2 separate regions of the Homo sapiens genome follow, and region 2 is linked to region 1. The links come from fine-mapping of genetic effects on gene expression. Tissue or cell type: whole blood. Region 1 holds a variant in brackets; the other region holds the start of a gene. All regions are shown on one strand. Distances are between the middles of the regions.

Region 1 (8,000 bases):
GTCTTGAACTCCTGACCTCGTGATCCACCCGCCTCAGCCTCCCAGAGTGCTGGGATTATAGGCGTGAGCCCCCGCGCCAGGTCATGTTAGCGTATTTTATGTGTTGCCCAAGCAATTCTTCTTCCAGTGTGGCCCAGGGAAGCCAAAAGATTGGACACCCCTGAATTGTAAACTATCTTGTACAGAGCCTGGTTTATAGTTGGTGCTCCAGTAAACGTTTATTATGTGCTAAGCATTTGATGTGCATTTTCTCATTTAATGCTCATGAGCAACCATAAGAGGTATTATTTATCCTGGTTTTATAGAGGAAATTGAGGCTTTGAGAGATTAAGTAACTTGACAAACCACTAAGAAGCAGAATCAGAGTGAAGAGTGTGATCTAGGGGTCTTGTACTAGTTCTCTGAGAGAGACTTACTGTAATGTGTGTTTTCAGCCACTGCCCTCTGTTCCCCTTCTCCTAGGCTGGATTCATGCTGTGTATACTCCTACAGACACATTAGTGTTTGGGGGCAATTTTTTGCATAGCTTCAACATCCCTATGCAGTTAAAAATATACAACATTGAAGATCGGACACGGGTAAGTAATCTTATGTAACAGTTGCATGTGAAGAGGTTTACTCCAGTTATGATAGATGTTACAAGAGATTCACTGATGGTTTATCAAAACTTCCATTTTTCTTTCAGTTAAAATGCAGTGTTGACATTTTGGGAACACACAAAATTTTAAATTTAATTTTTTTTTTTTTAAGGCAGAATCTTGTTCTGTTTTCCAGGCTAGAGTGCAGTGGCGTGATCATGGATGATTGCAGCCTCAACCTCCCAGGCTCAAGCATCTTCCTGCCTCAGCCTCCCAAGTAGCTGGGACCGTGGGTGCACACCACATCTGACTAATTTTTAATTTTTTTCGTAGAGACTTGGTCTCACTGCGTTGCCCAGGCTGGTCTAGAACTCCTGGTTCAAGCAGTCCTCCCACCTCAGCCTCCCAAAGTGCTGGGATTACAGGTGTGAGCCACTGCGACTGGCCAAATAAAAATTTTAACACGATTTACATACTCCGTTTTAGGGACTCCAATTCTGTGAGGTTTTTGGTATCTTGGATTTCTTTTTCTTTCCTTTTTTTAAAATTTTATTTTATTTTATTTTATTTTTTAGCCAACACCATAGTGAATGGGAAAAAGTAACATTTTTTTCTTTTAATATTTGGGACAGAGTCTCACTCTGTTGCCCAGGCTGGTGTGCAGTGTCACAGTCATGGCTCACTGCAGCCTCAACCTCCCTGGGCTCAGTTGATCCTCCCACCTCAGCCTCCCAGGTAGCTGGGACTACAGGCACACGCCACCACATGCAGCTAATTTTTTTGTATTTTTTGGAGATGGGTTTTTGCTGTGTTGCCCAGGCTTGTCTTGAACTCCTGGGCTCAAGTGATCTGCCCGCTTTGGCCTCCTAAAGTGCTGGGATTACAAGTGTGAGCTACTGCATCCCACAGTATCTTGGATTTTTATAAGGCCAGACATTTACCTCTGGTAATCTCTTGAGCCATGTGTTTCATTTTTATGCTCACAGAATAATTTGGTGTAATGGGGCTTATCAACCCAAATTTCAGAACTTTAAATTCATGTATCTTTTTCTACACTGATGACTATACTCAAAGCATCTTACTTTAATTATATAAATGTATATACTGTCTTTCTCAACTGGGGTTTCAAGAGAGAATTAAGCCCAAAATAAAATAATTTGTGTATCTTATTTTCTCATTTTTCTCTAGGATGATACACAGCTAATACCCTTCTAGATGCATAGAAAAAAGTTAATTTATTATATACAATGGATACCTTAAGGCAAGAGTTGACAAACTTTTCCTGCAAAGGACCAGATAGTAAATATTTTAGGCTTCGTGGGTCATAAAGTGTCTATTGTAACTGTTTAACCCTACCTTGTAGCATGAAATACTTAAACAAATGAGTGTGGCTCAAATAATATAAAATTTTATTCATAGACACTGAAAGTTGAATTTCAGATAACTTTAACATGTCACAGAATACTCTTAAATTTTTTTCAACCATTAAAAAATGTAAAAAACGATCCTTTTATATAGTTCATGATCATGATTAGGTGTTCATGCACGTATGTGAAAGATGCCACCCTTGAACCTTGTTACTATTAATACGTCAGCACATTACCTGTCTGACCCGAAAAAAAAAAAAAAAGGTAAAAAACACTCCTAGTTCACAGGAATCATAAAAAGAGGCAGCAGGCCAAATCCACTAAGTGTTGTTTGCTGGCTAGCCTCCACCTTAGAGAATGAGAGCTTATTTTTTAGCAGAATTCTAATTGGTAAGGGCTGAATCATATATGAAAGTATAGATGATACTGGGATTAAACAGCAATTAGAATATTTGGGGGTTGTGATGTTTGTAAGTTACTCTCAAGTAGCTTAGCAGAATACTAAGCTAGTATGGAGATGAGCAGATGTGGAGAAATGTTAACAGTTGGAGAATTGCAGAGAAGAGTGTAGAACTATTAATGCTACTGCTCTTGAAACTTTTTGGTAGAATTAAAAGTATTAAAAATTTTAAAATAACAATTAATGAAGAATTCACAACTTTTATATGAATGGTCTTTTATATATTATAGGAATGGTCACTGACCTATGTACTGCAATAATAGTCAACCATTATGGTGCCTATTTTGCAACATTTATTTTGGTGTAGGAGTTACGTATCACTATACACATCATTGATATTATTGTTGGAGTTACAGGAATTGCCCTACTAGTAGAATTAAGAGAGGAAGCCAGTGCTTCTTCAACACATTTTATAAAAGTACATTTCTTTTTATTTGTTAAGAGTAACAAAAGTACAGTTCAGGCACAGGGGCTCATACCTGTAATTCCAACCCTTTGAGAGCCCAAAGTGGGAGGATTATGTGAAGCAAGGAGTTTGAGACTCTCCTGGGCAACAAAGCCGGGTGTGGTGGTGCATGCCTGTAATCCTAGCTACTGGGGAGGCTGAGGTGAGAGGATTGCTTGAACCTAGGAGTTCCAGGTTGCAGTGAGCTATGTTGGTGCCACTGTACTCCAGCCTGGGTGGAAGAGTGAGACACAGTCTGTTAATTTAAAAAAAAAAAAGATGTCTATTCTAAAATAGGTAAATATTCTAAAATAGGGAAAATGTTTCAAAAGAAAAAAAATGTATAATTCCATAGTAAAATACTCCTGTTTAACTCTGTCATTCTTTTTTTTTTTTTTTTTTTTAATTTATTTTTTTATTGATAATTCTTGGGTGTTTCTCACAGAGGGGGATTTGGCAGGGTCATGGGACAATAGTGGAGGGAAGGTCAGCAGATAAACAAGTGAACAAAGGTCTCTGGTTTTCCTAGGCAGAGGACCCTGCGGCCTTCCGCAGTGTTTGTGTCCCTGATTACTTGAGATTAGGGATTGGTGATGACTCTTAACGAGCATGCTGCCTTCAAGCATCTGTTTAACAAAGCACATCTTGCACCGCCCTTAATCCATTTAACCCTGAGTGGACACAGCACATGTTTCAGAGAGCACAGGGTTGGGGGTAAGGTCACAGATCAACAGGATCCCAAGGCAGAGGAATTTTTCTTAGTGCAGAACAAAATGAAAAGTCTCCCATGTCTACTTCTTTCTACACAGACACGGCAACCATCCGATTTCTCAATCTTTTCCCCACCTTTCCTGCCTTTCTATTCCACAAAGCCGCCATTGTCATCCTGGCCCGTTCTCAATGAGCTGTTGGGCACACCTCCCAGACGGGGTGGTGGCCGGGCAGAGGGGCTCCTCACTTCCCAGTAGGGGCGGCCGGGCAGAGGCGCCCCTCAAAACTCTGTCATTCTTAGAGGTAATTATGTACCCATTCTAAGATTCAGTCTGAAAATTGGTTTTTAGAATGTGTTCCCTTTTTATGGTTAAAGATGACTCTTACACCTGGGTCTTATACACTGGTTCAGTTTCAGGGAAGAAAAGGAAAATACATATTCAGTAACATAAAGTGAGTACCTTATCCCCTGCATGAAGAGTTTTCTACGTAAAGAGAAGAAAAATAAGGGGGAAAAAAAAAAAAGGCCAGGCACAGTGGCTCACACCTGTAATCCCAACACTTTGGGAGGCTA[G/A]GCAGGCAGATTACCTGAGGTCAGGAAGTTGAGACCAGCGTGAGCAACATGAAGAAACCCTGTCTCTACTAAAAATACAAAATTAGCCAGGCGTGGTGGCACATGCCTGTAATCCCAGCTACTCAGGAGGCTGAGGCAGGAAAATCGCTTGAACCTGGGAGGCGGAGGTTGCAGTGAGCCAAGATCGTGCCATTGCACTCCAGCCTGGGCGACAAGAATGAAACTCCATCTCAAAAAAAAAAAAAAAAAATTATTTCCAAAAAATGCTAACCCAGTCTTAGAAATTGATATGCGGCATAAGTAAAAAGCAATGGGGTCAGGTTGGGTATGTGGTATCTCTTGGCTATAATTAATACAGTCTTATAAGTTACGAGTAAAAACTCAAAATTTTAATGCCTGTATTTCATATTTTCTTCCTTTTTTCTTTCTTATTTATTTATTTATTTATTTATTTATTTTTGACACAGGGTCTCACTCTGTCACCCAGGCTGGAGTGCAGTAGCATGATCTCAGCTCATTGCAGCCTCAACCTCGTAGGCTCAAGTGATCCTTCTGCCTCAGCCTCCTGAGTAGCTGGGACCACAGACGCACACCACCACACCTGGCTAGTTTTTTTATTTTTATTTTTTTGTAGAAACGAGGTTTTACTATGCTGCCCAGGCTCGTCTCAAACTCCTGGGCTCAAGCAGTCCTCCAGCCTCAGGCCCCCAAAGCCTTGGGACCACGGGCATGAGCCACTATGCCCAGACTCTTCTTTTTTTTAAACTGTCATTATTACTCAGCTTTCAACTGATTTCCAGAGGGCTTTAGAATTTGGAGTTGTCCTGAACTCCTAATAAAAACCCTTCCAGAAAGTGTTGCTATACTTAAAAGGCTAATGGAGAGGCGTAGTGTATTATATTTAATTTTGAGGGACCAAATACCTATTGGTTGTTGTCTCTCTCCTCTGTCTCCCTTAGTCAGAAATAAATTAATTTTACTTCCGTGTAAGAGAGTCATTCTTTTAGTTGTTAAAAGTTTTAGCCACATAAGAAACCAGAATCAGGGTCTGGCTACTATGCATTAGAAAACTGATTGGGGCTAACTATGAAAAGTACATCTCCTCTCCTGCCTTGCCATGGGGAGAGTGATCTCCTTATTCCCCAGTGATGCCCTGTGGCCTGGTGAAGGTTTTTGAAAAGGGACTCCTATCCAGTTCTCCGTGATTCAGGAACACTACCCGATATAGAGTTTGTAAACGGGTAGGTGAAGTCATCCCTACAATATGGGAGGAGATGGGAACATTCTCAGGAGCTGCATATTCAAAACAGTATCATTTGGCTTATCCTTTTGAAATATGGCCTCTCTAAAAGAAAGCTGTATGGCCAGATATGGTGGTTCATGCCTATAATCCCAAGTACTTTTTGGGAGTTTGAAGCGAAGGATCACTTAATCCCAGGAGTTTAAGACCAGCCTGGACAACATAGTGAGACCCTGTCCGTACCAAAAATTAACCCCTTTCTTTTTTTTTTTTTTTTTTTTTTGAGACAGAGTCTCGCTCTGTCCCCCAGGCTGGAGTGCAGTGGTGCGATCTCAGCTCACTCTGCAAGCTCCGCCTCCTGGGTTCACACCATTCTCCTGCCTCAGCCTCCCGAGTAGCTGGGGCTACAGGCACCCGCCACCAAGCCCGGCCAATTTTTATATTTTTAGTAGAGATGGGGTTTCACTGTGTTAGCCAGGATGGCCTTGATCTCCTGACCTCATGATCCACCCACCTCAGCCTCCCAAAGTGCTGGGATTGCAGGCTTGAGCTATCTTGTCCGGCCAAAATTAATCCCTTTCTCATTTTCCCCAATGATACTCACCAGGGGCACTTGGCAGCTGCAGCATTTTTTTTTTTTTTTTTTTTTTTTTTTTTGGAGACAGAGTTTCGCTGCTGTTGTCCAAGCTGGAGTGCAGTGGTGTGATCTCAGCTCACTGCAACCTCCACCTCCCAGGTTCAAACAATTCTCCTGCCCAGGCATCCCGAGTAGCTGGGATTACAGGTATGCACCACCACGCTAATTTTTGTATTTCTAGTAGAGACGGGGTTTCAGCAGGCTGGTCTCGAACTCTTGACCTCAGGTGATCCACTTGCCTTGGCCTCCCAAAGCGCTGGGATTACAGGTGTGAGCCATCACGCCCGGCGGCTGCAGCATTTACCCCAAGATAACTTTGCCACGAACTATCTCGCTTTTATTATTTTCACATCACTCTAGTATACTGACTTTGAAAACAAAAGATATCATTCTATTTATAGCATTCTGTTTTTAGTAGTGGTATTTCTACTTACAAAATATAGTTATTCTTGATTGCTGAAAATGTCAAATCCTAGAAAACATAGCATTCCTATGCGTGATGTTAACATCATTCTTGGGCAGGCGTGGTGGCTTATGCCTGTAATGCCAGCACTTTGGGAGGCTGAGGCGGGCGAATCACTGGAGTTCAGGAGTTCGAGACCAACCTGGCCAACATGGTGAAACCCCGTCTCTACTAAAAATACAACAATTGGCCAGTCACGCTGGCTCACGCCTGTAATCCCAGCACTTTGGGAGGCCGAGGTGGGTGGATCACCTGACGTTGGGAGTTCGAAACCAGTCTGACCAACATGGAGAAGGCGTGTTTCTACTAAAAATACAAAATTAGCCAGGTGTGGTGGCGCATGCCTGTAATCCCAGCTACTCGGGAGGCTGAGGCAGGAAAATCGCTTGAACTCAGAGGCACAGGTTGCGGTGAGCCGAGATCACACCACTGGACTCTAGCCTGGGCAATAAGCACAAAACTCTGTCTCTAAATAAATAAATAGCTGGGCACGGTGGCTCATGCCTGTAATCCCAGCACTTTGGGAGGCTGAGGCAGGTGGATCACCTGAGGTCAGGAGTTCGAGACCAGCCTGGCCAAGATGGTGAAACCCCGTCTCTACTAAAAACATAAAAATTAGCTGGTCATGGTGGTGCACACCTGTAATCCCAGCTACTTGGGAGGCTGAGGCAGGAGAATCGCTTGAACCCAGGAGGTGGAGGTTGCAGTGAGCCAAGATTGCACCATTGCAGTCCAGCCTGGGCAACAAGAACAAAACTGTGTCAAAAAAGAGTAAAAATAAATAAATAAATAAATTTAAAATAACAATTAGCCAGGTGTAGGGGCACACACCTATAATCCCAGCTGCTCAGGAGGCTGAGGCAGGAGAATTGCTTGAACCCAGGAGGTGGAGGTTGCAGTGAGCCGAGATCCCACCACTGCACACTAGCCTTGGTGACAGAGCGAGATTCCATCTCAAAAAAAAAATAATAATATATCATTCATGAACAGTTGTTGGCCAGAGATTCATTTGATGGATCTGATTTTTCTGAAATAGACAATCCTGATGATTCAGACCATCCTGCTGTTAGTTTTGTTTAGAAATAACTCCAAAGACAGTTTTTATATTTTATGTTCACCTTGAAAATCAATCAGATTTCCAGCCAGGCGCAGTGGCTCACGCCTGTAATCCCAGAACTTTGGGAGGCCAAGGCGGGCAGATCACGAGGTCAGGAGATCGAGACCATCCTGGCTAACATGGTGAAACCCCGTCTCTACTAAAAATACAAAAAATTAGCCGGGCGTGGTGGCGGGCGCTTGTAGTACCAGCTACTCAGGAGGCTGAGGCAGGAGAATGGTGTGAACCCGGGAGGTGGAGCTTGCAGTGAGCCGAGATCGCGCCACTGCACTCCAGCCTGGGCAACAGAGCAAGACTCCGTCTCAAAAAACAAACGAAAATCAATCAGATTTCCTTCAGCATCAAAGAGCATGTTTATGTAAAATTAAATGAGCACTGGCCGCGAGCTGCTCTTTTATTTTCTAAAAG
Region 2 (8,110 bases), 250 kb after region 1:
AAATAACAGCAACCTAGCAGCCGCACGGCCCGAGAATAAGTTAAGGCACAGAGCAGGCGACGGGCGGCTTTCCCAGGGCCAGGCCTGCATGCCCCGAACTTCCTGAGCAAACTCCCTAGGGGCTGGGGTTTCGAGGGTCCTGGAGGGCCTCTTCCCTTGAGATGAGGGGAACGGAACAGGGCAAGAGGGGCGCCCCCATGGGCGCAAGGGGTCCACGCTGCGCCGCGATCACTTCTCGAAGTAGGGCAGGTAGAAGAACTGGAAGCCCCGGTGGCCCTTGACCGCGCAGTAGATGAAGATCACGTGATAGACTGCGGGGCGGGGCCTGTCAGCGCAGAAGCCCCGCCCCTCCCCGCAACACCGCCCCCAGTGCCGCCCCACAGCCCCCGCCCCTTCCGCCCCGGTGCCCGCTCGCACCTCCAGGCACCAACAACAGGAAGCCCGGCACGAAGAAGATGGCGCTGGAGACACCTGCGGGAGGGACCAGAGCCCGGTCAGGGCGAGGGGGCGGAGGCTTCGAGGCCTTCCGGGCTGCCGCTGACTGCCCGGGCAAGCCTCACTCCCAGCTGAAAAGGAGCCGTGTACTGCCGGGAGGTGGGAGGGCTTGCCGTGGACCCGTGGACACAAGACAGGGGTGTCCTCTGCCTGTGGGGGCGGGAGGGTCGCTCACCTGGAGAGGGGGTCGCCTCCAGTCCCACGCCGACCAGGATCAGCACTGCACACAGACGGAGCCGCGGGGGTGGGGGCAGGAGCAGTGGTGAGGGCGGGGGCTCCCACCCCCAGCCCGGCTCACCCACCACCTGAGCTGAAGGTGCCCTAGGCAGAGACCCTCCCCAGGAAGCTCACCAAGCTCTGTTTCCAGAGCAAGGCACTGAGCAGGCCCTGGGAAGTGTGTGAAAGGAGAGATTTTTCTTTGTTCCTTGGGGTGGGCTTTTAGTCATTCAGCAAACATTTATGGAACACCTACTGCGTGCCTGGTACTGGGAATTCCGCCCTGAAGGGCAGATAAGGTCCCTGCCCTCATGGCCCGTCCTTAGTGGAGGAACCAATAAGAACCTGAAAGCTAACAGTACAGGTGATTGGGATATAGGGGGTAAGAACAGGGCAGTGCAGGAGTCCTGGGTCCCCAGTTAGAAGAGTGATGGGGGAATGAGGAGCTGGACTTTGGGCTCTGCAACAAGGGGGGTAGTAAGCCTGGGGGACTGGGGGGCCACCATGGACTGCTTTGTGCATTGCCCAGACTACTTCAAAAAGGGTGGGCCAGGTGTGGTGGCTCATGCCTGTAATCCCAGTGCTTCAGGGAGCCAAGGCAGGAAGATCGCTTGAGGCCAGGAGTTTGAAGCCAGCCTGGGCAACATACCAAGATCCCCATCTCTATAAAAGGTTAAAAAAAAATTAGCCCAGCCCAGGCGTGGTGACTCATGGCTGTAATCCTAGCACTTTGGGAGGCTGAGGCAGGAGGATCACTTGAGTTCAGGAGTTCAAGACCAGCCTGGGCAACATAGTGAGACCTTGTCTCTATTATTATTTTAAAAAAAAAAAAATTAGCTGAGCATGGTGGTACATGCCTGTAGTCCCAGCTACTAGGGAGGCTCAGCTGGGAGGATGGCTTGAGTCCAAGAGTTTGAGGCTGCAGTGATCATACCACAGCTCTCCAGCTTGGGCAACAGAACAAGACCCTGTCTCTAAAAAATAAAAAGGGCTGGGCGTGGTGGCTCACGCCTGTAATCCCAACACTTTGGGAAGCTGAGGTGGGTGGATCACCTGAGGCCAACATGGTGAAACCCCATCTCTACTAAAAAAATACAAAAAATTAGCCAGGTGTGGTGGCGCGCGCCTGTAATCCCAGCTACTCTGGAGGCTAAGGCATGAAAATCCCTTGAACCCAGGAGGCAGAGGTTGCAGTGAGCCGAGATTGCGCCACTACACTCCTGCCTGGGCGACAGAGCAAGACTCCTCCTCAAAAAATAAATAAATAAAAATAAAGGGGTATAGGGTATGATGGGGGCTGAAACTCACTCCCTGCACCCTACAAAGGCCCTCTAAGGCGCTCTGGTAGCCCCAGGCTTGCCTTGCTGGGTTGAGGGGAAAAATGAAAGAACTTGGCAGCACTACCAGGGCCAGTGTACAGCGGTGCTGGGAAGTGGCAGCCCCCTCCCCCACACTCAAACACCCTGAGCAGAGGCCAGACTCTGTGCCAGGGGCCTGGCTGGCTGGGGAGCCTTGGCCTTCCTGGAGAAGCGGAGAGATGAGCCAGGGTAGCAGCCACAGTTAGTCCCTTCTTATGGATCACTCGTGACCCCAACCCTGGATCCTTTCTGGGGACTCTGCCTCCTCTACCCCAAAGAACGAGGTGCCTGGGAGCCAAAGAACACCTGGTGTGAGATCTGCCTGCTCTGGACCAAAAGTTCCCCCATCTGAGCAATGGGTAGGAGAGGGGTGCTTGTCAGTGCTTAGATGCCAGACAAGGGGAAGTGCCAGGTGCCCTGCGGCTCTGCACTGGCTGGGCACTCGGCATCCCTGAGCCCCTACACGTGGCTTCTGGGCACCACCTCACTTGTAGGACTTCTGTAAGATGGGAAAATAAAACTGCCCTGCACCTTGCCCAGAGTAGACACAGAATAAATGGTAGCTGCTACTCTTCTGTCCTCTAATGGATTTAAACAGGTTAAATTTTTTAAAAAAGGAAAAGTCTTTGCAGTGATAAGCCAGGTTCCATTTTCAGCTATGTGTGATTTCCTGGCTGTGTGCCCAGGTCACAAGGCCTCTGTCTCCTCACCTGTAAAATGGGAGTGTGATGATGGCAGCCAGCTGCCTCCTCAGGATGCTGGGAGGCTCAGTGTCAAGGGGGAGGCAGAGCCTGTACAAAAGGAGGGCAGAGCCTCCCACGGGGCCCCTCTTGACCCCAACCCTCAGGGCCACTCACCCAGCCCCAGCAGCAGGAGCAGGAAGGAGGCCAGCACCACTCGGCGGTTCTTCTGGATCAAAGGGTGTTGGGTCCAGCTGGGTGGCAGGAGAGCAGGGTGAATGTGAAGGAGGTGGAGGGAGGGGGTGCAGGAGGCTGTGGGGGTGGAGCCAGGGCTGCTCGGCTGGGGGCTTAGGCGGGCAGGCTCACCTGCAGCAGGTGTTGTAGGAGCGCTGGGTGCTGCTGCTGATGGTGCTGAAGGACCACTGGGAGCTGCGGATGGAAGTTCGGCTGGAATCCCTGCCAGGACAGGCGCCCAGTGAGGGGCAGGGAGGCAAGGACGGGGTTGCTTTGGGACAGGAGTCCTGATGAAGTGCAGGGCATGGTGCAGGGACTGGGGCTGGCCCCTTGCAGGATAGTGGGCCCTGAGAGGCCTCGGTGGGTGAGCATGAATTCAGGGGCTGGGGATGAGCTAGGGGATTCTGTAGGACAGGTGACCTGTATGAAGGTGGGGGCCAGACCAGACTGGGGGTTTCTGAAAGAGGTGAGTACAGCTGGGCACTAGGGTAGGGTGACCCTACAGTGTAGGAGACCCTGTGAGGAAAGTGAGGGTCAGGCTAGGAATCAATAGGACGGGATGGAAGAGAGTGAGTGAAGTGGGGTGGGTGACTGAGCAGGGTCCCTGGGGATAGGAGCTGGGGCTGGGGTACAGGGTTGGGTCCCCACCTGGCCCTAACCTGGTGCCGACTCCCCCATCCGGCTCCGGAGAGGCCTGGGCTCCATCCTCATCGTTCTCCAGGTTCTGTTGCAGAACACAGGTCTCAGGGGGGTTGCTGGGCTGGGGCCCTTCCTCACTCCCTCCCGGGAAGAGAAAAGCAGGCCTACACAACCATTTGCCTGGCCGCCTGGCAGCTGTTCACCTGGCCCTCTGCCCTCCCCGCAGAACGGGTTTGGTGATTCACAGAAACCAGGTAGGAGGTGGGTGGATGCCAGGGCTTTGGGGAGCAGGAGCCTGCATAGATCCCAGGGAAAGGAGAGCTCCCAACTTTGGGTTAGGGTGGAGCTCTCATTCAGTGGCCTAGAATGGGAGCTTGGGAATTGGGGTGCCAGGAAAGGCCAGGCCCAGAGTTCCCAGGTTCAAGGCACAGGGTTCTGGTCCAGGTCTCCAAGAAAAGCAGCCTAGGGTTGGTGGAGGTTTTCTGGGAAAATGGGTTTTTCTGGTTTAGTGGGAGCCAAAGGGTGGGCAAGGACTGGTCATGTGAGAGGAGCTCCAGCTCTTAGGGGTGGTGGTGGGATTAGGGAGAGGGCTTTCAGAATAGAGAAAGGCGTGCGGGTTCCCATCAGCTTAGCTGGCCTGGGGCACAGGGGATGCTCCTGCGTGTGGGGCAAGGTCTGGTTCAGATACAGAGGAGCTCCCCCAACCCAGCGGGGGCCAGGTGCGAGTAGCCAGGATGAGTGGGGAATCCGGTTGGGTTCCCCAGCTGGAGCTGAGGGATGAGCTCCCGGGCCCGGGCACTGGGCTCTTCCCGGCTGGCTGGGGCCCGGTATGGGAACCGGGAGGGCCTGGGCAGGGCTCTGGATCAAGAGTCACGTCCGCGGGGCGGGGGGGCGGTCTCGCGCTTCAGCTGGGGCCTCTAGGCAGATGCTTCCCCGAGTTGAGGCCTTTGGGGCCCGGCCTGGGGTCCCGTCCGGCCGGGGGCAGGGGGTTAGGTGGGCCGGGCGGTTCACCTGGTAGCGCAGCCGGGACTGCTTGTCCTCGTCAGCCACCTCGAACCGGGCCCGACGCTCGAAGTGCAGCGGCCCAAAGCGCGCGACCCCGCTGGACTCGGGCCCAGGGCCCCCGTCCTCCAGGGACAGCTCGAAGGCATCATCAATGCTGAACTGGGGCCGGGCGGCGCTCATGGCCCCGGCCCGCTCAGGCGCCGTGCGCCGCCGCCATCTGCGCCCACACACCCAGCGTCGCCGCTGCCCCGCCCCCGCATGCCCCGCCCCTCCGACCCTGGCTCCGCCCCACGCGCCGGTCCCGCCCCCGTCCGCCCTAAGCAGGCCAGAGTTGCCGAGCCCTGAGCGGGCTGATGGGTGGGAGCCTCTTCCAGACGGAGCGCGCCCGCCCCGTGACGCCACTCAGTGGCCGCCATGGCAAGCGACAGCCCGTGCCGGGCTCGGACACATCCCCCAGGCGTGTATGTGCGGGGGCTTGGAGGGGCTTCCACGCCCCAACCTCCAGGTCCCTGACAGGGCCTTTTGCACCGCAGCCTGTTCCTCGAGTGCCAAGGAGACTCCTGGGAACTGTTTCCCCACCTTACTCACAACAGCCCCGCACCGGAGGGGTGCTCTCCCCATTTTTGCAAATGTGGAAACCGAGGCTCAGAGAGCTTATGTGTCTTCCAATTTCCAGTCAGTCTCCACGCAGCAGCCGAAGTGATCTTTTAAAACAAATCTTTTTATCTGCGTGTGTTATTCTGAAAACCCTTTTTAAAAATTTTGCTGCTGGCCTGGCTCGGTGGCTCACTCCTGTAATCCCAGCACTTTGGGAGGCCGAGGCGGGTGGATCACTTGAGGTCAGGAGTTCAAGACCAGCCTGGCCAAAAGGCGAAACCCCGTCTTTACTAAAAATACAAAAATTAGCCGGGCGTGGTAGTGCATGCCTATAGTCCCAGCTACTTGGGAGGCTGAGGCAGAAGAATTGCTTGAACCCGGGAGGCAGATGTTGCAGTGAGCCGAGATTGAGCCACTGCACTCCAGCCTGGGCGACAGAGCAAGACTCCGTCTCAAAAAACAAAACAAAACAAACAAAAAAACCTTCCCTTGGTTTTCCATTGCACTTAGAATAAAATCTGAACTCTTGGCAGGGCACGGTGGCTCACACTTTGGGAGGCCAAGGAGAGTGGATCACTTGAGGTCAGGAGTTTGAGACCAGCCTGGCCAACATGGTGAAACCCAGTCTCTACTAAAAATACAAAAATTAGCTGGGCACGGTGACCAGTGCCTGTAATCCCAGCTACTTGGGAGGCTGAGGCAGGAGAATCGCTTGTACCCTGGAGGCAGAGGTTGTAGTGAGTGGAGATCACACCACTGCACTCCAGCCTGGGCAACAGAGCAAGACTCCATAAAAAAAAAATGAACCGTGGTGGGGGGCGGTGGGGGTGGAAGAGCAGAAGTACTCTATGAATTAGGTGGACCTGGTTTCAAATCCCCATTCTACCACTTGTAAGTACTTGGGACTTTGGCAAACCCCTCATTCATTTCTGCCACAAGTATTTATTAAGCATCTATTTAGGGCCAAACACTGTTTTGGGCACTATAGATACAGTGGTGAATAAAACAGTGCAAAATGAGACAGTTTCAAGTGCTGTGTGATGCAAAACTGACTTTAGATTTCGTACTCAAAGATGACCTTTCCAAGAGGTGACATTTGAGCAGGAATGCCGATGATGAAGGAGCCAGCTGTGAGAAAAGCAAGGTTCAGTGTTTTCCTGGCACCAGGGAACAGCACGTTCAAAGGCCAGGAGGTGGGAAGGAGCTTGGCCTGTGGAGGAAGAATGTGAGAAAACCAGTGTGGCTGAGCAGCAAGGAAAGGGGCAGGCCGACTTGATGAGCCTGGGAGGAGTAGATGGGCCCCAGAGCCTTGAGAGCTTTATGGACCTTAGTCAAGAGTTCTTTTTTGTTTTTGTTTTTTTCGACACAGGGTCTCGCTCTGTTGCCCAAGCTGGAGTGCGATCTCAGCTCACTGCAACCTCCACCTCCTGGGTTCAAGTGATTCTCCTGCCTCAGCCTCCCGAGGAGGCTGGGATTACAGGCATGAGCCACAGTGCCCTGCCTTATTATTATTATTATTATTATTATTATTTTTGAGACAGAGTCTCGCACCGTCACCCGGGCTGGAGTGCAGTGGCAAGATCTCGGCTTGCTGCAACCTCCGCCCCCTGGGTTCAAGCGATTCTCCTGCCTCAGCCTCCCCTGTAGCTAGGATTACAGGCGTGATCTGCCCACCTCGGCCTCCCAAGGTGCTGGGTATGAGCCACCACACCCGGCCTCATGTTCATTTTATGGCCTCATGTACAGAGCTGAGTCAAGTCTACTTCTGTTTGTTACACATCAACACTATGAATAAGGCCCCTCTCGAGTTATGTTAATTCACTTACCCTCTTTCACTTCCCAGGTTCCTTCCTCTCCCCTGCCTTCCATCAGACCCATGTCAGCATGCTCAGTCGGCGTCCTTAAAGCCTGCCTGGCTCTGTACCATGTATGGCACTGTCTCCTATGTGGATGTGTTTGCAATTTACAAACATGATGTCATGCAGAAAATTCAGTTCTGTTACTTACACGTTTACATTTTTGCTCTCGATGCTGTTTTCCATATGCATTTGTTTATTGTTTCTACAGGCTACATGCATGTTGTACCATGTTGAGTGTCTAGCACCTTTATGATCCACCTCACCTCCACAGTGTTGTACACTCAAACTGGCCTCAACCCCGCCATCACAGGCATCACTGCAGTTAACATCTTCCTGCTGTCCCCTTATGGACTGTGGGAGAATTCCCCTTGGGGTAGGATTTCCAGGTTATAGGGCACACGCACTCATGACTTCACAGGGTACCACAGATGCTCTCCTGAGTGGCTGTGAGAGTTGACACTCCACCTGAGGCTTCTGGTTCTCTCAGGACTTGGTACCATCCAACTTTTTAATGGCTTGCCGATCTGATGAATTTAAAGTGGTACCTCATGTTCCTCTGGGTTCTCTGATGGCTGGAGAGTTTGAGCTGCTCTTTGTGCCCTTGTCAGCCATTGGGTGTCCCTTGTCTGTGAACTGGCTTTTCATATCTTTGGTCTTTCTTTTTGCTATTGGGTTTCTAGCCTTTTTCCACTAATTTGCATATCAACATATCTAATCATTAATTCCTTGCTGGTTTATGACCTTGCACATATTTCCTATCTGTCTGTCTTTGACTCTTTGTCTAACATGCTCTCAAAGAATAATCACTCCTTTTCAGGCTGGGTGCAGTGGCTCATGTCTGTAATCCCAGCACTTTGGGGAAGCTGAGGCAGGAGGATCACTTGAGGCCAGGAATTCAAGATCAGCCTCAGCGTAGCAAGGCTGATGCAGGGCAGGTGATCCCCAAAATTGGGGCTTAGCCCAAGAGAGTGCTTGGCTTCACCTGGGAAAGAATTCAAGGGTGAGCTGGTGGTGTTAGACAGCAACT

Evidence for each region. PIP is the estimated chance that this variant, and not a neighbour inherited with it, causes the effect.
Region 2: it holds the start of TMEM134, and the variant in region 1 is fine-mapped to the expression of TMEM134 in whole blood (TOPMed, PIP above 0.99).

Annotation. Positions count from the first base shown.
Region 1 is chr11:67,218,826-67,226,825 of GRCh38, forward strand. KDM2A (lysine demethylase 2A) reads left to right here. Exons shown (of 21, transcript NM_012308.3): 10 at 463-578. It overlaps LOC124902839 (small nucleolar RNA U13), which reads left to right and starts at 2,083; the gene lies at 2,083-2,191. RefSeq lists an enhancer at 3,433-4,312. The variant G/A (reference allele first, on the strand shown) is at 4,136.
Region 2 is chr11:67,464,386-67,472,495 of GRCh38, forward strand. TMEM134 (transmembrane protein 134) reads right to left here and starts at 4,866. Exons shown (of 7, transcript NM_025124.4): 1 at 4,634-4,866; 2 at 3,643-3,707; 3 at 3,116-3,205; 4 at 2,927-3,003; 5 at 671-715; 6 at 418-471; 7 at 1-311. The coding sequence starts at 4,807. The coding sequence ends at 229. RefSeq lists silencers at 4,451-4,590, 4,801-4,940 and enhancers at 4,478-5,102, 5,091-5,270.